Regions from separate parts of the Homo sapiens genome. Here region 2 is linked to region 1. Evidence: fine-mapped expression QTL. A gene starts in region 1. The other region holds a variant in brackets. All regions are shown on one strand. Distances are from middle to middle.

The links.
Region 2: its variant is fine-mapped to the expression of TMEM167B-DT in fibroblasts (GTEx, PIP 0.98).

The regions. Positions count from the first base shown.
Region 1 is chr1:109,083,358-109,086,273 of GRCh38, forward strand. TMEM167B-DT (TMEM167B divergent transcript) reads right to left here and starts at 1,393. Exons shown (of 2, transcript XR_947688.3): 1 at 1-1,393.
Region 2 is chr1:109,119,983-109,122,898 of GRCh38, forward strand. The region is part of intron 1 of ELAPOR1 (endosome-lysosome associated apoptosis and autophagy regulator 1); the gene reads left to right. Among named protein-coding and RNA genes, the nearest start is that of ELAPOR1, 7.3 kb to the left of the region's middle. The variant A/G (reference allele first, on the strand shown) is at 1,310.

The DNA.
Region 1 (2,916 bases):
CAAAACAAATGAACATTACAATATAGCAGGGGGACATAAGTTAAACAGATATAGTATGCTTTGGAAACATGATCAGGGAAGTAGACTGAAGGTCCGAGAAGTCTACCTTGAGCAAGTGAGGTCTGAGTTGGGACTTGAGGGATGAATGTGAGTTAGCCATTGAAGGAGGAAGGGAGGCTTTACTGTGCCCCAATCTTACCTTACACTTTCCCTCTCCAGGGCTTTGATGGCTCAATTCCCTCCCCACTAGAATGCTCTTTATTTCTGCTTATTGAAATGCTATAAGCTTTTCAGGCCCAGCTAAAATGTCTGCTCCTCAATAAAGCCTTCCCTGAACGCTCCAGCTGAAGGCAGTTTCCCATTTCTACGCACCCCCCCGCCACCCTGGCACTTAGTTTTCATTTTCCTTGGACACTTCTCACTTTCTGCTGTATTTTTTGGTTATTTATAAACACAGCTTATCTTTTTCTACTAAATCTTAAACTTTTTAAGAACAGAGTCTATTTCTCATTCATCTTTGAGTTCCCAAAGGCTAGCACATTCCTTAGATTTAGAAGTCCTGGAACAAATGTTTGTAGCATAAATTAATGCCTATTTGACATCCCTTTTCAAATATGTTGTAATTCAAATGAAGCTATTGTTGCAAGCTGTGCCTTTGAGGCTCAACTTACTCTTTGGTTAAACCAGAATGCCACAGTCATGGTCCCCATGACTGATTAGTGTTCACCACAATAACTGCAACAACCCTAACAAACAGGCCACTGTTCTTGACTGACAGGCGTTTGGCAACAACTACCAATTCTCCAGTGAACACTGAAATGAATTGAGGAAGAACTGTCTGAATTGAGAGTCCCTAGGCCAGTAGGCTCTATTTATTCTTTGCAGTTGGGCTGCAAGAGCTGGTCACCCAGGCTTTGGCCTGATGTGAGACATGACTGCACTGGGTGGCAGTGAGGCTATGAGACTTTCCAGGGTGACAGAAACATTAATGATTGTAACAAAATAATCAAAGATCAGTATCAGTGGAAAGCACTGTAATTTGAGGCAGTGTGATAACAAGGGAAAGGGAGCTTTGAACTTAGACCTGGGTATGGATCCTAACAGGCTATGTTATCTCACCCACGTCCCTTCTTTAAGTCTCAAGATTTAATTAAAAAAAAAATCTGTAAAACAGTTGTGAAAATCAAAGATACTGTCTTTACACAATGCTCATGTTCTATTAAAATGTGTTTATTCATCTATCTTACCCAACATATTTTCTTCTCTGAGGGCAGGGACTTATTTATGCCCCATTTCTGCAAAATCAAGCAAAGTGCTTAGCACACAGTAGTAGACACTGACAAGTACTTTTTTTTTTTTTTTGAGACAGGGTCTCGCTCTGTTATCCAGGCTGGAGTGCAGCAGTACAATCATGACTCACTGCAACTTCCACTTCCAGGGCTGAGGTGATTCTGCTACCTCAGCCTCCCGTGTAGCTGGGACCACAGGCATGCATCACCATGCCTGGGTAATTTTTTTATTTTTTGTAGAGACAGACTTTCACTATATTGTGCAGGCCAGTCTTGAACTCTTGAGCTCAAGCGATCCGCCCACCTCAGTGCCCAAAGTGCTGGGGCTACAGGCGTGAGCCACCAGGCCAACCACAGATACTTTTAAAACAAATTGTAGCAGGAGGAGCCTCAGACAAAACTCCTCAGACACCGAGTTAAAGAAGGAAGGGGTTTGTTCGGCTGGGAGCATCGGCAAGCCTCCTGTCTCAAGAGCCGAGCTCTTCAGGTGCTCAACTTGTGCTTTTAAGGGCTCACAACTCTAAGGGGATCCACATGAGAGGGTCATGATCGATTGAGCAAGCTAGGGGGTACATGACAGGGGCTGCAAGCACCAGTGGTCAGAGCGAAACAGAACAGAACTGGAGGTTTCACAATGTCTTTCCATACAATATATGGAATCTATAGATAACATCAGTTGCTAAGTCACGGGTCGAATTTTAACTACCAGGCTTAGGTCAGGCAGGCCTAGGCCTGGTTTCAGGTGTGGTTCCTAGGCACTGGGCTACCTGCCTTTAGTTTCTCTTCTCTTTCCTTTTCTGAGTATAGAACAATATGAGAGGGTCTCTCTCTTCCCTCAAAATGAACAACAATAATAGCTATCATTTATGGAATACTTACTCATGTCAGATATTGTTGTAAATAGTAATTCACTTAATCCTCCAACAACCTTAGAAAGGAACTAACTTAATTTCACAGAAAACTGAACTTTTTTTTTTTTTGAGACGGGGTCTCACTCTGTCACCAGGCTGGAGTGCAGTGGCGCGACCTCAACTCACTGCAACCTCCTCCTCCCGTGTTCAAGCGATTCCCCTGCCTCAGCCTCCCGAGTAGCTGGGACTACAGGTGCGTGCCACCACGCCCAGTTAATTTTTGTATTTTTAGTAGAGACGGGGTTTCACCATGTTGGCCAGGATGATCTCAATCTCTTGACGTGATCTGCCTGCCTCGGCCTCCCAAAGTGCTGGGATTACAGGCATGAGCCACCGCACCTGGTCAACTTTTTGATTTTAGAATATAAAAGTCTTGATACAACTAATTTTGAAATAGCCTGGTGAGACTCACTCTATTCAATTAAAAAAATGTAAAATATCTTTTACAATATGAAAAAGAAAAAATATGGTGGAGGGAGAAAGAAGAAATAAATTTAAGAGTGGGAGAAAAAAAGTAGGAAGAATAGAGACAGACGTGGAAAATGAAGAAAAAGTAAATTTTGAGTGGAGTTAAAAGAAAACTGTTTAATCATAAGATACTGTGTGCATTATCACTGCCCTTTAGAAATAGTAATTTGAGGCCGGGCACGGTGGCTCATGCCTGTAATCCCAGCACTTTGGAGCCCGAGGCAGGTGGATCATGAGGTCAGGAGATC
Region 2 (2,916 bases), 37 kb after region 1:
TGGTCTGATGTTTGTGTCCCCCCTAAATTCATACATTGATACCTAATCCTCAATGCAATGGTATTAAGAGGTGGGGCCTTTGGGAGGTGATTATATCCTATGGGATTAGTGCACTTATAAAAGAGGCCTGAGGGGCTGGGCACCATGGCTCATGCCTGTAATCCCAGCATTTTGGGAGGCCGAGGCAGGCTGATCGCTTGAGGCCAGGAGTTCAAGACCAGCCTGGCCAACATGTTGAAACCCTGTCTCTACAAAAAATGCAAAACCTAGCTGGTGTGGTGGTGCATGCCTGTAATTCCAGCTACTTGGGAGGCTGAGACACGAGAATTGCTTGAACCCAGGAGGCAGAGGTTGCAGCAAGCCAAGATCACGCCACTGTACTCCAGCCTGCGTGACAGAGCAAGACTCTGTCTTAAAATAAAATAAAATAAAATAAAATAAAATAAATACAAGAGGCCTGTATTTTTGCCCCCTCCACTATATGAGGACACGTAGACAGCACCATCTCTGAGGAATGGGCCCTCACCGGACGCCTAATCTGCTGGTGCCTTGATCTTGGACTTCCCAGCCTCCAGAGCTGTGAGCAATCAATATCCATTGTTTATAAATTACCTAGTCTATGGTATTTTGTTATAGCAGACCAAACAGACTAGGCAGTCACTTTAGCCCCAGACATACCAAGTTAGGGCTTAACTGTGGGGACACTCTCTCTTCACAAGTAATGCTGTTTCTTCAGAGCTCTTGGGGGTCGTGTTTACCTAGACTTTTACAGCTTTCTTCAGTTTTCAGTTTTGTAATCTGATGTGTCGCAGGTGGGATGAGTTTTCTTCTATTTTGGAAACTGGACAGATGAATTCTCATTCAGATCACTCACTAAATAGAGTCCAGGTGAAAGCAACTTCTAGGGCCAGGCTTCTGGAAATTAGTAGCATCTTAAGGTGTCAAGGTAGGTAACATCTTAGGGTAAAACAGAAATGTCACTCAATAAGAGCTATCTACTGCTCTCTATTCTATCTGAGAGGAGTCTTAGCTATTGTAACGTCTTTCAGGGAAGTGCCCTGTGGGCAAAAATAACGCTTCGTATCCAGATTTGGTACAGTTTACAAAATTTTGAAATTTTTGGTACTTTTTTGGTCCCTTTTTGCATTCTGTATTTCTTGAATTTTTTTTCAATTTTTTTTGAGATGGAGTTTCCTTCTTGTTGTCCAGGCTGGAGTCCAGTGGCGTGATCTCGGCTCACTGCAACCTCCGCCTCCCAGGTTCAAGGGATTCTCCTGCCTCAGCCTCCCAAGTAGCTGGGATTACAGGC[A/G]TCTGCCATCACTCCCGGCTAATTTTTGTATTTTTAGTAGAGATGGTGTTTCACCATGTTGGCTACACTGGTCTCGAACTCTTGACCTCGGGTGATCCACCCCCCTCAGCCTCCCAAAGTGCGTGAGCCACTGTGCCTAGCTTTTGAATTATTACATTAAGAAAGTATCATTGTTATAAAAGCAATAAGGTTATTTTAAAATAGTATTCAATAGGCCAAAAGGGAATATGGAAGTAACAGCCTTGAACTCGTGGCCTCAAAGGATTCTCCTGCCTCAGTCACACTTTAGAGTTTCCCTTTACATTCAGGATGAATCCTGAAAAGAGGGGTAATGCTGCCTTAGACACTGGAGGGACTAAACTCTGACAAAAGAACATTACCAAGAACTATCTAGCCTTGTGAAATTTAGACAATTTCTGCAAATATGGATCTTTCATACTCCAGTGGCCCAATAATGGAGGTCTTCTTTGCCTGTGTATTACTTTTTTTTTTTTTTTTTTGAGACAGAGTCTCTCTCTGTCACCCAGGCTGGAGTGCAGTGGCATGATCTCAGCTCACTGCAACCTCTGCTTCCCGGGTTCAAGCAATTCTCCTGCCTCAGCCTCCTGAGTAGCTGGGATTACAGGCACCCGTCACCACGCCCGGCTCATTTTTGTATTTTGGGTAGAGACAGGGTTACATCATATTGGCTAGGCTGATCTCAAACTCCTGACCTTGTGATCCGCCCACCTTGGCCTCCCAAAGTGCTGGGATTACAGGCATGAGCCACCACAGCTGGCTCTTTTTTTTTTTTTTTGAGACAGAGTCTTGCTCTGTCACTCAGGCCAGAGTACAGCGGTGCAATCTCAGCTCACTGCAGCCTGTGCCTGTCGGGTTCAAGCGATTCCCATGCCTCATCCTCCCGAATAGCTGGGATTACAAGCGTGCACCACCACACTCTGCCATGTTGGCCAGGCTGGTTGGTGTTGAACTCCCAACCTCAAGTGATCTACCTGCCTCCGCCTCTCAAAGTGCTGGGATTACAGGCGTGAGCCACTGTGCCCAGCTTCAGATAACCTTTCCATTAAAAAAAAAAAAAAAAAAAAGGCAGGATGTAGTGGCTCGTCCCGGTAATCCCAGTACTTTGGGAGGCCATGGCCAGCAGATTGCTTGAGCCCAGGAGTTCAGGACCAGCCTGGGCAACATAGCAAGACCCCAACTTTACAAAACAGTTTTAAAAATTAGCTATGTGTGGTGGCCCACGCCTGTAGACCCAGACACTAGGGAGACTGAGGTGGGAGGTTCACTTGAACCCATGAGTTAAAGATTACAGTGAGCCGTGATCAAGCCACTACTCTCCAGCATGGGCAACACAGTGGGACTCTCTCTTTAAAAAAAAAAAGAGACTGGGTGCAGTGGCTGACACCTGTAATCCCAGCACTTTGGGAGGCCAAGGTGGGCAGATCACTTGAGCTCAGGGGTTTGAGACCAGCCTGGGCAACATGGTGAAACCCCATCTCTACTAAAAATACAAAAATTAGCTGGGCATGATGGTGTGCCCCTGTGGTCCCAGCTACTTGGGAGGCTAAGGTAGGAGGACCATTTGAACCCAGGAGGTTGAGGTTGCA